Homo sapiens: one gene and its partner. Changing the gene in region 2 together with the main gene of any one other region gives a genetic interaction. Each region holds a gene or a part of one and is shown on either strand. Other genes may lie near its edges.

What was found. A genetic interaction does not mean that the proteins touch.
Region 1: changes in MMP2 (region 2) and PAK4 impair growth when combined (synthetic growth defect), as found in Homo sapiens cells (one study listed by BioGRID).

Annotation. Positions count from the first base shown.
Region 1 is NC_000019.10:39,128,072-39,136,800, reverse strand, and holds part of PAK4 (serine/threonine-protein kinase PAK 4), read right to left. Parts: intron 2,615-8,729; exon of another isoform or gene 1,597-2,614; intron 380-1,596; exon of another isoform or gene 238-379; intron 1-237. UniProt on the Homo sapiens protein: Serine/threonine-protein kinase that plays a role in a variety of different signaling pathways including cytoskeleton regulation, cell adhesion turnover, cell migration, growth, proliferation or cell survival.
Region 2 is NC_000016.10:55,474,211-55,482,197, reverse strand, and holds the start of MMP2 (72 kDa type IV collagenase isoform 1 preproprotein), read right to left. Parts: upstream 3,001-7,987; 5' UTR 2,719-3,000; coding exon 2,566-2,718; intron 2,201-2,565; exon of another isoform or gene 2,143-2,200; intron 1,666-2,142; exon of another isoform or gene 1,601-1,665; intron 642-1,600; exon of another isoform or gene 323-641; coding exon of another isoform or gene 320-322; intron 1-319.

The sequences.
Region 1 (8,729 bases), on a different chromosome or scaffold from region 2:
AGCCCAGCTTACTACAGTTCAGTCAGTCAGTCAGTCAGTCAGTCAACCAGCATTTACTGAGAGACTACCACACTCCAATCCCTGAGAACATAGCAAGGGGCAGGGCAAGGCCCTGTGGTTCTACCCCTACCCCCATGCCCTGAGGCTACGTTATGCCGGGAGACAAAATAAACCAACAGACCCACATGTCATAATGGAAGTAACCATCATGAGGGTTACCGGGGGAAGGTGCTAGAGGGAGGGTGACAGGGGCTGCTCCTGGGGACCCATGGTCGGGAAGAAACATCTCCCCAAGGGGGCCACTGTCAGCAGAGGCTGACTGAACAGAAGGAAGGAGGGTGCTGCCTGCCCAGGGGGCAGCAAGAACAAAGGCCCCGGGGTAGGACCTGCCTGGAATGTTCCAGGAATGGTGGCAGGAGAAGAGGGAAGCAGGGCAGGCAGGAAAGTGGCCAGGTTGCCTGGGACCTTGCAAGCTTCTCTGCTGGGAGAGGTGGAGCCAGGGGAGGGTTCCTGCCCTGACCAGGTGTGCACGGCTACCTCTGGCTGTGTGCGGACAACTGTGGGGACAGTGGGGGAGAAGGGAGCAGGGAGCACGCCTCAATGGTCCAGGAGGGAGATGAGGGTGGCTTGAACTAGGGGGCCACGAGGAAGAAGGGTAACAAGGAAGGGGGGTAACGAGGAAGGGGGATGATGAGGAAGGGGGGTGACGAGGAAGAGGGGTGACAAGGAAGAAGGGTGACGAGGAAGAGGTGTGACCAGGAAGGGGGTGGCGAGGAAGGGGGGTGACGAAGAAGGGGGATGACGAGGAAGGGGAGTGACAAGGAAGAGGAGCCCGCAGCACCAGGTTACATTGTCATGTAGAGTGACAGGCTTTCCAGACACTTTGGATGTGGCGGGGGGGCAAGAGAGGAGTCAAGGTGATAGGGTGCCAGATTTGGAGAAGCCTAATCCCGAAACAAGACGAGGGATGGGGGTTCCTGTTCCCAAAATGGGGTCACTGTGGGAAGATGGGGGCCGGGAGCCTCCAGCCCGGCTTATCTTTCTGTTGCTCTGCAGTCGAGGTCTGTGTTCCCACTGGACTGAGCTCGGGGAGGGCTGCCTGTTGTTTGGGTTCACCCTTCAGTCGCTGGGCCCCAGCGCAAAGCTGGTCAAAGAATACACGCTTGGGCAGGGCGCAGTGGCTCACGTCTGTAATCCCAGCACCTTGGGAGGCTGAGGCAGGTGGATCCCTTGAAGTCAGGAGTTTGAGACCTGCCTGGCCAACATGGTAAAACCCTGTCTCTACTAAAAATACAAAATTAGCCGTGCGTGGTGGCACATGCCTGTAATCCCAGCTACTTGAGGGGGTGAGGGAGGAGAATGGCTTGGATCTGGGAAGCGGAGGTTGCAGTGAGCTGAGATCGCGCTGCTGCACTCCAGCCCTGGTGACAGAGCAAGGCTCCATCTCAAAAAAAAAAAAAAAAAAAAAAAAAAAAAGAATAAGCACTTGACTCCTGTCCACAGAATGGGTGAGAGTCGGAATGGACAGGAGCAAGGGGAGGACAAAATAACATGAGGGGCTCAGCCCGATGATAACCAGTGGTGTTACTTTTGCAGGAAAAAAGAATAAAAATGTTCCAAGGTCAACCAAAAAGTCTGACGGTACCAAATGTTGGTGAGGAGGTGGAGCAACTAAGATCCTCAGTCACCACCGCTAGGAGGATACACAGATTTGACCACCTTGGGAGGCTGTGTGGCAGCGCCCACTAAATCTGAAGCTACCCCACCCTCTGCCCTGGGCTACGCACTCCTGGGTATATTCCCTGAAGAAACGCAGGCACCGGCACCCCAGGAGATGCTACAAAGAGATGGCTCGCATCAGCGCAGCAGGAGATGGAGGAACAGAATATTATATGGGGCTGGGCACAGTGGCTCACGCCTGTAATGCCGGCACTTTGGGAAGCTGAGGTGGGTGGATCACCTGAGGTCAAGAGTTCAAGACTCGCCTGGCCAACGTGGTGAAACCCCCTCTCTACTAAAAATTAAAAAAAAAAATTAGCCAGGCATAGCGGTGTATGCCTGTAATCCCAGTTACTCGGGAGGCTGAGGCAGGTGAATCGCTTGAACCCAGGAGGCAGAGGCTGCAGTGAGCCAAGATTGCACCACTGCACTCCAGCCTGGGTGACAGAGCGAGACTCTGTGTCAAAGAAAAAAAAAGAATATTATACAGCAACAAAGATGAATGACTACAGATACACTCAGCACACAGATGGATCTCACAGGCCTAAGGGCGAAAGAAAGCACAGACAAGGACATACTGGAAGATTCCATTTATGTCAAGTTCAAAAGCAGGCAAGATGACATTCTGTAATTCAAGGATGCATACCTCATGGTAAAAACTATCAGGAAAAGCAAGGACACAGTGACCACCAAGGTCAGGAGAGCACTCACGACTGTGGTCGTGATGGACAGGGGTTATGGGCAGGCGGCTTTTGGGAGGTTGTGTTCTGTCTTTACCGAGGTGGTGGGGAAGCGTTGTTCACTTTGTAATTCTTTGCTAAACTTACCTGTGCATTTTATGCACTTTTCTATGGGCATATTATAATTGACAATTATTAAAGGTTTTTTAAAAGCAGTGGAGTTAGAAGCGCTGTGTATATATATAGCATTTGAGAGTCAAATAACGTGGGCCCAGGCTGCAGTGGAAGATTTGCGGGGAAGGGACGACAGAACTATGGAGGCCCCTGTGGGCGGCAGGGAAGGAGGGTTCCTCGGGAGAGAAGGACAGGGGCCTCCTGTGGGGAGGGCAGGGAGGGGTCTTCACCTGGGGACGGGTCTGTGGAGGGGCCAGTGGCCCGCAGGGTCCTACTTTCTCCCCATGGCCAGTGCTGACCGGTGACTGTGGGCGCAGTGAGGGAGGGAAGGGAAGGGGAGGGGGGCTGGCACCCCACGCAGCCCAGGAAGACCGGCCGCCTTCCGCCTCTGGGAGTGAAGTGTGGGAGTGGCAAAACCGGGCTGGGAAGTGAACTCAAAACCGCTGCACAATGCTGCTTTATCAGGAGTTCCCAGGACAGGTGGCAGGAGCAGGGAGGGTCTGGGACGGGGAGCTCTCTAGGTGAGGACCCTGCCCACCCGGTGCTCCCAACCCTCAAGGTGTCTGCTCGAAAGCTCCTGGGCAGCCTGCCTGGAATGCAGACAGCAGAAGGTGGGTGGGGGAAGCAGGAGGGAGAGCTTTGTAACCCTCAGGCTTAGCCCCGGGTAGCAGGGGAAGCGGCCACAGCGATTACCAGCCAGGCCTCCAGCATCCAAATCCCAGTTCCTCTTGCTCTGTGACGGGGCCAGGTCCCCCAGGCTCTCAGTCTCCTCCCTAGAAAAGGGAGATCCTAAGAACACGTGTGTCTTGGAGTTGATGGGAGGGTCCAGTAGGTTAGTTCACAGAAAGCACTCAAACAGTGCCTGCTCATATTAATAACATGGCTATTGGTGACATAGCTATAATATTAATAATACGGCTATTAGTAACGCAGCTAACAGTCTTTGAGCACTTACTATACATTTTGCCTGCCGAATATACATTTAGATCCTCAAAACAACTCTAAGAGTAGATATCATTAGCACCCTCATTTTACAGATGAGGACACCCGGGCACAGAGAGGTGATGTGACTTGTCTGGGGTCACACTGCTAGTAAGAGACAAAGCTGGCTCCGGAGGCCAAGCCCTTGACCTCTTCTGTGTCAGATGGGTTAGGAGCTCCAGAACGGAGCCAAGGTTTGAGTGCCACATCTGCCACGTATTTGCTGTGGGACTGCTGGCCTGTGCCTCAGTTTCCCCTTCTCAGAGAAAGTAAAATTATCAGGAATAGACAGCTCCAAGAAAAGGAAGCTCAAGATGGCTTTCAACAACACAAAGCTGTCCCACTTTGCTCTGATTAAAATCAGAACCATGATGAGACTGTTTGTCACCTATCTGACTGGCAAAGGTGAGAATGTCAGGTGACACCCGTCTATTCCAGCAAGGGAGTGAGGAAACCCCGGTGTCATCAGACACTGGGGGGTGGGAGTGTGAGCCAGACAACCTCCCCAGCAGGGTGAAACACTAACACTACCGGCAAAGTTAACGGGGCACCTGTCTCAGACCACGAGGCCACAAGCTCAGACTCACACCTAGAGACATATGCACAGCCACACTCAGGCGGGCGCAGCCCTGTTCACAGCACGGAAAGATGGGAATGGCCTGATGGCCATCAGCACAGAATGGCTGTGCTGTCCGTGGGGGCACGCGTGTGCGTGGGACACGAGGCGGCACTCTGTGTCCTGACAGCGAGCTTCGGAGTGGGAAACGCAAAGCACAGGACAGAATATAAACATGGGAAGTCCGCTCCATTTGAGTAAAAACAAAAGGGAGGGGCGGGCACTTGGGGGAACAAATATTTCAAGAAAGAAAGAAAAGAAACCGGGGGTGATGATGCTATCTCTGGGAAGGGCCTGGCAGGCGGGTGGGAAAGAGATTTGCTCGTCCCTGTACATCCTTTTGTGCTGTGTGCAGTTTTTCAGTGATTATTTAGGGGAATAGGTAATGCATGCACATGGAGGAAAAACGTGCTTTCTGAAAATTGAAACACGGGAAAAGAGAAACGAGGTTAAAAACACCTCCTCCTCAGGGTCTCTGGGTACAGCCACATGACCATGCTCATAGACTCACAGCACACGCGTGCCTGGCACGTGGAGCTGGGACCCCGGGCGGGGGGCTGGGGTTATTACAGCTCACTACGGGATGAGAACCCAGAGGGGGACAGGGTGCAAGGGACGGAAACCATCGAACGCACCAAGTTCAACATTTACCAAGCACTTACTGAGTGCTGAGCATCGGGCTAAGCACGACGCACACACATGATCTTCCGCCCTCCCACAGCCCTGAGAGGTGGCCACCAATACTCCCTGTAACAGGTGAGGAATCAGAGGCCCAGGGAAGTTCTTTGTCTCTTCCCCAGGGGCTCCCAGCTAGTGAAAAAGGCTAAGGGATGTGTGTGGACTGAGCAGCCCTGGCAGGGAAGTTCCACTGCCCCTCGGGAAGGCAGCAGATGGCCTCCCAGCCTGGGAAGGGTCGGGGCAGGACCGGAGGGTCCCAGGAGAGAGGCTTCAGTGAGCGGTGGCTTCTGTCGCATCCGCCAGCGCTGGCTCCCCTGGGATGGGAGAGTGTTCCCCTTCTCACCCTCCTCGGCCCCTCCAACCTTCCTGTGGGCCAAGGCGTCTGGCAGACAAGAAGCCTTGGCCCCGGATGGGTGACTAGGCGGGAAGGGTCCCACTTCCCTGGCCATGACTTGGAAGGAGGTTGCTTCCTGCTGGCAGCATGTGCGGGGCTGGGCTCGGTGATGGGAGAAACAGCTGCTGGGGACACCCCTGACCGGTGTCTGGCCAGGAAGTCTGGCTCACCACGAGCCAGTGGGACGAGGAGTAGATGAGAAAGGAAAGGGAGGCCCTGAGGGAGGTAGGGACCCAGCGCCCAGAAACTACCCAGGGGGAACAGGTCTCCACGGAACTTCTGTCAACAAAGGAGCCTGGGTAAGAACCAGCTGAACAGGAATCAGGCCTGTCTTGTCCGAGCCAGTTCCAAACCACGGGAGGGCAGCCCCAGTAATCAGTGACACTGAAGCCCCAAGGCCTGGGGTTCAATCCTACCTCTGCCACTGCCTGCTGTGTGACCTTAAGCAAGTCCCGTACCTCTCTGGGCCTCCTTTCTCATCTCTAGAGTGAGGATGATACTAGCACCTACTTCACAGGTTGCTGTGAAGATGAAGTGAGGTAACAGGGGTAAAGCGCTGATGACCTCAGCTGGCACGAGGACGCTCCTCCATCACTGTCCCCTCGTCTTCTCCACCCTCTTCTGCTTGGACTGTCACAGCAGCCTCCCCACAGCCTCCCTGTCGCCACCCCCCGCGATCCGTCCCCCACACAGCAGCCTGAGCAATCTTTATAAGGGGAAAACCAGATGTCACTAAAGCCTCTGATGACTTCCCATTATGCACAGAATGGAATCCACACACCCCACCTGGCTCTGCTAGGCCCTGCTGTATCCAACACCGCCTCCAAGCCTCTGACCCCACCCCCTGCTCAGCCACACTGGCTTCTTTTTTTTGCTTTTTTATTTATTTATTTATTTTATATTTTATGTATTTCTTTAACTGCTCTTTGCAGAGCAAGGCTACCACACAGTCAGGGTGCACAGCATAGCCTACACCGGCCTATCTGATGATCCTCGACCATTCCGAGGTCATTCCGACCCTCAGGGCCTTGGCACTTCCGTACCCATGACCTGTTACATTCTTTCCACCTCCTTCCAGCCTCGCTCATATGTTCTCATCAGTCAGATGTCATCTTATCCAGAAAGCCCTCCTCAACTCCCCACGCTGGGCCACATGCCTCCTCGGGCTTCCTACGGTCCCTGCGCCTCCATCCCAGTCCCAATCCCTCTCTGTGCCCCTCCCCACCATCCAGCCCCAACCCCTCTGCCTGGGTTTCCCCATCCCGCCCTGACCCCTCTGCCTGGGTTTCCCCATCCTTCTCTGACCACTCTGCCTGGGTCCCCCCCAGTCCCACCCTGATCCCTCTGCCTGGGTCCCCGCTCCCATCCCGCCATGACCCATCTGCCTGGGTCCCACCACCCCACCCTGACCCCTCTGCCTGGGTCCCCCCCACATCCCGCCCTGACCCTTCTGCCTGGGTCCCCCCCACATCCCGCCCTGACCCTCGCCTAGGCCTCTCCTTCACAGCCCTGGCCTCTCTGGGCTGTCACCGTCTGGGGACAGCAGGTCTGTCTCCTTCACTGTACTATAATCTACAAGGGTAGAGCTGGGCTGTGTTGGTTACCACTGGGACCAACAGTCAGATACACAGAAAGAATGTTACAAGGCCTCACCCATCCTCCAACTTTCACCTCCGTCCTCCCTGCCTCCCTCCTGAGAGGTTCGAATCAGTATAGTTCTCTTTCCCAGCTGTCACCCCTGGCACCTGCCCCCAAGGGCAGTTGGGGCAAAGCTGCAGTCACCGTCCTGGATGCCCAAGGGGGTAAAGGTGAAAGCCCTTCCATCCTTTCTTCTCCTGTGGTTGTAGGGAGTCAGTGGGGACGAGGTCCCAGCTAAGCCAGTTGTGTGAACCATCTCCCCATCTGTTTCCAAACAGCCTGGTGGGTGGGTGGGTGGGCCCATAAACCTCCCATGTCACGGCCGAGGAAATCGTTTCAGTGAGGGCCACAAAGCTGCCCAAAGCAGGACTTGAAATAAAGGGAGCCCCGGAGCCTGCTGGGGAGCACAGTGGTCCAGCCACTGGGGGCATGACTTGGCAACCGCTAGGAAAGCGGGGAGCTCCGGCTTTTCCACTACTAGGCATATGCCAGAGAGACTCTGGCCATGGTCTACAGGAACACGCGTTCCAGAAGGCCCACTGCTGCACGGTTATAGCTCCAACGGACCACCTCAGTGGCCATCAACAGGTGAACAGGCAACTCCTGTGTGACACGATCACAAAAAGAAACACCATCAGGAAAAACAAATGGCCTGTCCCAGGCCTACACACATCCCCACCAAGAGACATCCAGACTCCAATGCTCAGCTCAAAGCGGGGAGCAGGTGTGCGCGCCTGTAATCCCAGCTACTCCAGAGGCTGAGGTGGGAGGATAGCTTGAGCCCAGGAGTTAAGAGTCCAGTCTAGGCAACATAGCAAGATCCCATCTCAAATATACCTATAATGTTGAACAAAAACAGCAACTTGCAGAAAGGCATGTTTATGGTGACACCATTTATCTGAACTGTGAAACAACAGTCGTCAGCCCCTGCTGGCCATAAGAACTGCCCAGGGAGCTTCCAAAAGCCTGAGGCCAGCCCCAGCCCAGACCAAGTAAGTTGGAAGCAGAATTTCCATGGCGGGCCTGGGCCAAGGCATCTTTTCAAAGCTCTCCAGGGAGTTGCAATGTGCAGCCAGGGGCAAGAGCTGTTGCTCTACTGTTGGTGAATACATTCAAGGGCAGTCAAAGTATGAAAGGCTGCAGAGGAATGGTGACTGCCACACCCAGGACAGAGGCTGCCCCTGGAAGGGAGGGAGGAGGGGGGGTGAGGAGGAGACCCTTGGCCTCTAACTGTATCACGGTGTGTTCTGTCCCAGGCCAGACGATGGCCGGATGCATGAGTGTTTCATTATACTGAAAGCCCTTTTTCCCCTAGCCAAACGTGTTGAAGGAATAAAAGTGGCAAATAAATCATTTGTCCCATGGCTGGTAAGTGACAAGGGAGGGACCTGAATATGGGTCTCCAATGCCCAAACCCTATCCTTCTTTATCTGTGCCAAACCCTGAGATGCTGAGTGAGCTGGCACTGCAAGGCTGGGAGGCTGGGCCAGCCTCAGAGGGCTGCCTGGCAGTGTGCCGGCTCCCTGACCCTGCCAGAGCCAGGTAGGGATGGGGTGGCTGCCAGAGAAAGCCAGGAGGCAGGTGGAGCGAGGGCCTCCACTGTCTCTGAGGCCCTCCCCAGGCAGTGGTGGGGTGGCAGCAGCAGCAGCAGCAAGACTAATGCTTACACAGCAACTACTGTATGCCAGGCCTTGGGCCAAGGCTCTCTAGCCTGCATCCTCACAGCAATTCTATGAGGCAGCGCTAACACTATGCCCATCTTGCAGAAGTGGAAACGGAGGTCCTCACATGCTCTGTGAGTGATGGAGAGGGGTGTGTACCAGGCATCTCTGGCCCAGCACTGCTTTCT
Region 2 (7,987 bases):
AACCGACTCATTTATTTATTCAACAAATACTTTTTAATACCTACCATGTACCAAGCCCAGTGCTACTGCTGAGGAAAAACAGGTGAAAAAGATAGACAATTCTGTCTCTAAGGTTCAAATCCTAGCAGGGAGGCTGATAGATCCCAAATAAAACAAAATGAAGTATGTGATAAGTACTGTGTTAGAATGTTGAAAGGAGCCAGGAGATCTTCTGACAACGGTCCTAGCCTTGTTGGAAGTAGTTAGGAAAGGGGAAATGGAGGACATAACAATAATAATAATATAATAGAATAATGGCTAGTGCTTATTGAGTACTTACCATGTGCTAGGTAAGCACCTAAGATTACCTCTCTTTTAACCCTGAGATAGGAAATTTCCCAGTTTGCAGATGAAGAAACTGAGAAGTCACTTGCCTAACATCATCACTAGGCCAGCTGGTTGGTTCATGCACTCTTTGATTTGAAGCCAAGCGGTCTAAGTCCAGAGTTATCTTCTTAAGCCCCCACTGCATTGCCTCTGGACAACACAGACTTCCATTTGTCAGAGGTGTTCAAACCAGGCACCTCCATCTTGAGTGGGGGGCTGGGTAAGATGAGGCTGAGACCTGCTGTGCTTCATTCCCAGGAGGGCAGGCATGCATTCTTAGTCACAGAATGAGACAGGAGGTTGGTAGGACTGATTTCACCATATACAGTTCGGGTCACAAAGACCCCTATGATAAAACAGGATGCAGTAAAGAAGCTGGAGAAAGCCCACCCAAACCAAGACTGCAATGAAAGTGACCTCTAGTCGTCCTCACTGCTCATTATATGCTAATTATAATGTATTAGCATGTTAAATACATTAGACACTCCCACCAGCGCTGTGACAGTTTATAAATGCCATAGCAACATTGAGAAGTTACCCTATATGGTCTAAAAGGGAGAGAAACCCTCGGTTCCAGGAACTCCCCACCCTTTTTCTGGAAAACTCTTAAATAATCCACCCCTTGTTTAGCATATAATCAAGAAATAACCATATGTATACTCAGTCCAGCAGCCCATTCCCTGCTCTGTCTATGGAATAATCACCCTTTTATTCCTTTACCTTCTTAATAAATTTGTTTTCACTTTACTCTGTTGGCTCGCTCTTGAATTCCTTCCTGTGCAAGCCAAGAACCCATGTGGCCCCCAGGCTGAACCCCAATTTAGGGGTTCATCCTGTGACCCATTGGCTGGAAAAGGTGTAGGAAACCAAGTAGCTTTGTCATTGTCCCAAAGCTCCACTCTCACCCCCACCCAACAGCCACATCATTATGCCAGCCAGCTCCAGATCCTTGAAAAAAGTAGCCCTCTAAAAATGTATGGAGGTTTCCCAACCCATCTATCCAGAGGGGGCTGAGACCTAGCTGTTTGGAAGGGTGAGAGTTGGGAGAGGGTAGTTGTCACCTCCTGAAGGAGTTCCTAGGGTGACCAGAGGGCATGGGCGTCTTCTCCCGGACAGGTTGAGGGGGAGGCTGGAGGGCAGGGTGGCTGAAGCAACAAGGGAGCAGATATCCCCTGGACTGGAAAGGACATCTTGATGGGTCCCTGGCCTGCCTCTCTCCTCAGGCCCTACTTACGCAACACTGCGGCCAGGCTCAGTGCCCCTCCAGCCAGGCGCGCGCACGCTCACAAGACAACATCTGAACCGCGGTTTGGGAGCCCAGCCAGGAAGGAGGGCTCTCTGGCCGCTCTCCGACCCGAGCGGAGCGCAGTCCGCCCCCGCCCCACGCGCCGGGCCCTCCAGCGCCTGCCCCACTCCTCCTCCCTCCTGCCGGGCCAGCTCTCTCCTTCTTTTCTCCGACCCTTTGGAGAAGTTCGAGGAAACTTTCCGAGGCCCAGCCCTTGACCAATTTGTCCATTAAGCCAGGAGAAAAAAGATGCGCTCTCTGCTTCCCTCCTGCCCCAATCACTTCCCAAATGGCCCCCTCGAGCTGTTTGTTTAAAGGTCCCTCTCCGGATCTGTGCCGAAGGTTCCTAGAAATTTGCCAAGCCCCGCTTTGACCAAGCTCCCTCCCATCCTTATGCGCGCATAAGTTTACCCAAATTGTGTGCCAGAGCACCGTTCCCAAAGTCCTACATTAGCAAAAACGACCCCTGTAGCTGTTTGCCAAAGGCTTACCTAGACGCTTGGCAAGAGCCCTTAGCAACTGCCCAGATGTGTCCAAAAGTTGTTTACAAAGACCGCCCCCCCCCCCCGCCAAATGTCCCAGATACTAGAGGATGTCCCCGCTATTTACATAAGAGTCCCTTTCCAGTAGTTTGCCAGGTCACCCCTCTCCCACTCTCTGGCTTGTTTTTCGCCCCACTGCTGTATGCTGAAGGTTGCCAAATTGTTTATCAAAGGTTTTCTTTGCTTACAAAAGATCCCCCACCGTTTGCAAGAGATCACTCCAATAGCTTGCCAAAGACCCCCCAAGCTGTTTACCGAAGCCCCTCCCCCACGCTGTGTGCCCACCGCCGAGGGCAGGGGGAGAGACACCCCCATCCTTTGCCTCCGAAGTTTGTCTAAACGTGGTTCCTTGAGGCCAGCGCAGCAACTCACCACTGCCAACTCTTTGTCCGTTTTGGGGGCGACATCGCCGGGGAACTTGATGATGGGCGACGGCGCGGCGGCGGCGTGGCTCAGCAGGCAGCCCAGGAGACAGAGCGCCCTCAGGGGACCCGTGAGCGCGCCCCGGGCCATTAGCGCCTCCATCGTAGCGCTCCCTGGCCCCGCGCGTCGCCCGGGGGTCGCTGGCTCGGTGCGTGTGGCCGCCTCGCCGCCTGGTTGGAGCCTGCTCCGCGGCGCAGGGCTGCGCTCCGAGGGTCCGCTGGCTCGGTGGCCTGGGGTTTGCCCGGCTCAGCGGCTCATGGTCCGGCCCCCGCGCCCCAGCCCCCGCCGCCGCCGCCGCCGCCGCAGGTCCTGGCAATCCCTTTGTATGTTTAAAGCCCCAGATGCGCAGCCTCCAGCCACCGCCTGAGGAAGTCTGGATGCAGCGGAAACAAGGGAGGGCAGCCGCCAGATGTAGCCGGCTGGGCTGGGAGGGAGCTGGCAGAGCGGGGCTGGGGGCGGGGGGCGCACTCGGGCCCGCCCCTCTCTGCCCCACCCCCCTACTCGCCCTCCTCCACTTTTCTCCTCTTTTTTCCTTTCTCCACCTCTTTTCCCCGGCCGCCTGCTACTCCTGGCCTCTACGTCCACCCTCAGTGCACGACCTCGTCACCCCACTTGCCTCTCTCGCGATCTGGGCGCACAGCCTCAGAACCCCCTGCTGGGAAACATCTGTCGCTCTAGGCCCTTGACGTCCTGAGGTTAGAGAGCAGCGGTACTACTAGGAGGGACGCCGGCTTGGCTAGGACACCCTGCACTCCCTGGGGTCAGGAACGGGAAGGAATGGTCAGAAACAGATGATCAGCCACAATGATAGATGGTCAGAGACAGAAATTTTCGATATTTAGGGATAGGGACAGAGAGATTCTGGGATGAACAGAGATGGAAAGAGAGAGATGGAAACAGAGACAGTGGAAGGTCCCAGGTTGCTTCCTTACCTCTTTCCTTCTGCAAATGTGTAAGCCTTAACTTGGCCTCGTATAGTGCGAGATGCTAGATACACCTTGGGAAATAGAGCAGTCAGGGGCCCCGCGTTAGAGACGTTGGAACCAGAGCGACTCCATCTTGAACAGGGGGCTGGGTAAAATGAGGCTGAGACCTGCTGGGCTGCACTCCCAGGAGGGTCCGCATTCTCGGTCACAGGATGAGATAGAAATTGGGCAAGACTGGTTTAATAAGATAGAGGTCACAAAGACCCCACTGATAAAACAGTATGCAGTGAAGAAGCCAGCCAAAACCAAGATGGCAAAGAAAGCGACCTCTGGTCATCCTCACTGCTCATTTTACGCTAATTATAATGCATTAGCATGTTAAAGGAAGCACCCACCAGTGCCATGGCAGTTTATAAATGCCATGGCAATGTGGGGAGGTTTACCCTATATGGTCTAAAAAGGGGAGGAGCCCTCAGTTCCACGAATTCCCCACTCACTCTTGAATCCTTTCCTGCGCCAAGCCAAGAATCCATGTGGCCTCTCAGGTCGAATCCCAATTTTGAAGTTCTCCCTGTGACAACCGTCTCTGAGGAATGTCTTCTCCCTCTCTCAGGAAAGACAGTTGAGAGATAAGCTGTGATGGGGAACTCCAGCAGGCTGTTGGGAACGCCTGACTTCAGCCCCTAAACTAGTAAAGACAATCAAGGAAGGCTTCCTGGAAGAAGTGACTTCTGAGCTGAGACCTGAAGAGCTAAAGAGGTGGAGTGCTGGGTGGGGAATATGGGGAATGTTTTAGGGAACATTGACAATGGCCCAGAGATGAAAAACAGCAAGAGGCACTGGAGAAGAAAGTTTTTTCTATCTGAAAAAGGTGGGGCACAGGGTGAGGGGATGGAGCTGGAGGGGTCAGTAAGGACCAGCCTAGGAAGGGGGCAGATAGGACTGGGGGTCAGCAGGGAACAGTTTGAGAAGTAAGGTCAGGGGCTGAAAGAATCAGGAGCAATATACTTGTGGGGGGCATTGGAGGTCACGATTATGTCTTGATCATCACAGCTAGAAAAGTCTCTGCGGCTTGGGTCTCAGTGGGCTTCAGACAAGTTCAGGCTTGTCTGGTGGGTGTGTGCTCTGACTTTCCAGAGTCAGTTTTAAAGGACCCTCTTGGGAGGGACCTTGCCCCGCAGGAGGGAGCCAGGCCCTTCAGCCTGACCCAGTGACAAACCTTGGCTGTTTTGGAGAGGGCGAGACTGAGGTCAGTTGGGAAGGGGGATTGCCTCCTGGCCCAGCCCCACTGGGCTCATGTCCACGTCCTGTGGATAGCCAGAGAGCCAAGTTGGAGAGCTGAGAGCTGAGAGTGAAAATGGAAAAAGTTATCTCACTAAAGCAGGGGCTGCAAACTCGTGGCCTGTGGGCTAAATCCAGCCTGAACAGCATTTTGAAATTTGGGAAACTTCATGTAAAAATCTGACTTTCTGGTTTTCTTTTTTTAAAAAAATTTCCCAAAAATCTGGCAATACTGGATGCCAGTTTCCATATGGCAATAATTTGCTGAAGTTGAGTAGTGACTGCTCCCTTTAGATGAGGCACATACTTTGGTTTGCCACAGTCCTCACCACTCTCTATTGTATTGCCTTGTATGTGACTCCCTTCACTAGGTGTTGTTCATTTACACTTGCCCAATTTGAGTTTTAACCTTTTCAGAAAGTCTCTGGAGTCTGCATAACATGCTTTGGAGCTCCTCTGGCAGAGGGCAGCTTTGACTGTACCTCTTCACAGCCTCTGTGGTTTTGGCATTCCAAGGGTATCGGTTTCCAGTGTGGGGCTTGGTGCCCATTCAGAGATGGCAATGGCTGCAGAAGCAGCACTCAGTGAGAGAGAGGCTTCTGTGCCCAGCAATGACTATGTCAGAGGCATTGGAACCAGAGCAACTCCATCTTGAATAGGGGTTAGACTAAGACCTGCTGGCCTGCATTACCAGTAAATTAAGGCAATCCTAATCACGAAATGAGATAGGAGGCTGGCACAAGATACAGGTCATAAAGACCTTGCTGATAAAACAGGTTGCAGTAAAGAAGCTGGCCAAGACCCACCAAAACCAAGATGATGATGAGAAAAACCTCTGGTCAGCCTTACTGCCACACTCCCACCAGCGCCACGACTGTTTACATATGCCATGGCAACGTCAGGAAGTTATCCTATACGGCCTAAAAGGCAGAAGCATGAATAATTTACCCCTTGTTTAGCATATAATCAAGAAATAACCATAAAAATGGGCAACCAGCAGCTTTTGGGGCTGATCTGCCGATGAAATAGCCATTCTTTTATTCCCTTACTTTCTTAATAAACTTGCTTTCACTTTATGGACTTGCCTCAAATTCCTTCTTGTGTGAGATCCAAGAACCCTCACTTGGGGCCTAGAATGGCCCAGGGGACGAGGAGAGAACAGGCAGTATCTGATGATAATGGGCTTGTTGGTGAGCACATGCAATATGCTCCAGGGCCCCTGTGCACTCCTGTATATCTCTCTTCCCCTGCCACGGTAACCCTGGGAGCCCTGTGTTGATCTAGCAAAGTCGTAAAATGAAAGCAACCAGACCCACTACAGACTTCGTAAGTGAAAAACAAACTCTTAGGCAACGAACCATGGAGCTTTTGGGATATGTTTGTTACTGCAGCATCTTTTAGTCATTCTTAATATAGATGCAAAAATGCTGTTTAGTGGATATAATTGTGTTGCCAAAAAGATATGTTCAAGTCCCAATGCCTGTGACTGTGCCCTCACATGGAAATAGGGTCTTTGCAGATACAATCAAGTTAAGATGAGTGGGCTCTAATCCAAAGCCTGTTGTCATGATAAGAAGACAAAACTTTGGACACAGAGACACACAGCAAGAAGAACTCCATGTGACCATGGAGGCAGAAATTGGAGCAATGCCTGCAACCCAAGGAGTTGCCTGCAACCCAGAAGCTAGAAGAGACAAGAAGGAATTCTTCCCCCAGAGGCTTCAGAGGGAGCGTGGCCCTGCTGACATGTTGGTTTTGGACTTCTAGTCTCAGAGCTCTGAGAGAATAAATTTCTGTTGTAAGCCACCCAGTCTGTAGTGCTTTTTTACAGCAGCCCCAGAAAACTACGCAGGCTGTGATTAGAAGACGTCGCGATATGACATGAATTCTGTCATTTATTCGGGAAGTTTTTGATGAACACTGTTTTTGGTGCTGGGGTACAGTGGCATTAAGGTGGTGTTTTATTGATGAAGAGGCAGAAATTACAGTGCGGGACACTAAGCAGGGGACAGAGCATTGAGGGAGGTAGTGGCCGTGTGCCATGTAAGCCTTCCCAAGACCCTGTCCTCCTACTTTTAGTAGCTGCCCCTTAGTTTCCCATTGGGAAGCTACTTCTCCCCAACTCTAGGTCTGAATTCAGCAGATGTGACCCACCTCCTGGCTCCACAGTGGCAATGTGACCCAAGCTGGGCTAAAAGGCAGATCCAGGCATCTTGGTGAGGTGATGATTCAGATACCGGCTTGTGAATCCACTGGAGCCAAGGAAAGTTAATTCTGGGACTTTAGCTGGAGGTACAGGTTACCTCATTTTATTCACACTTTGCCCTACTGTGCTGTGCAGAGATAGCAATTTTGCAAATTGAAGGTTTGTGACTACCCTGCGTCAAGCAAGCTTACTGATGTCATTTTTCCATTAGCATGTGCTCACTTCCTGTCTCCGTGTCACATTTTGGTAATTCTTGCCATATTTCCAAATTTTTCATTGTTATTATATCTGTTATAGTGATCTGTGATCAGTGATCTCTGATCTTACTAGTTAATTGTTTTGAAGTGCCACAAATGTCAGGCCTCCAAGCCCAAGCTAAGCCATCATATCCCCTGTGACCTGCACGTATACATCCAGATGGCCTGTTCCTGCCTTAACTGATGACATTCCACCACAAAAGAAGTGAAAATGGCCAGTCCCTGCCTTAACTGATGACATTACCTTGTGGAATTCCTTCTCCTGGCTCATCCTGGCTCAAAAGCTCCCCTGCTGAGCACCTTGTGACCCCCCACCCCTGCCCGCCAGAGAACAACTCCCCTTTGACTGTAATTTTCCTTTACCTACCCAAATCCTATAAAACGGCCCCACCCCTATCTCCCTTCGCTGACTCTCCTTTTGGACTCAACCCGCCTGCACCCAGGTGAAATAAACAGCCTTGTTGCTCACAGAAAGCCTGTTTGGTGGTCTCTTCAGATGGACGTGAGTGAAAACAAACTGTGCCCATATACAAGGGTGAACTAAATCACCCTTGTAAATGTGTGTGTTCTGACTGCTTTACCAACTGACTGGCCATTCCTCATTTCTCTCCCTTTCTGTGGGCCTCCCTAGACCCTACAATCAACAATATCAAAATGAGGCCAGTTAATAACTCTACAATGGCCTCTAAGTGTTCAGGTGA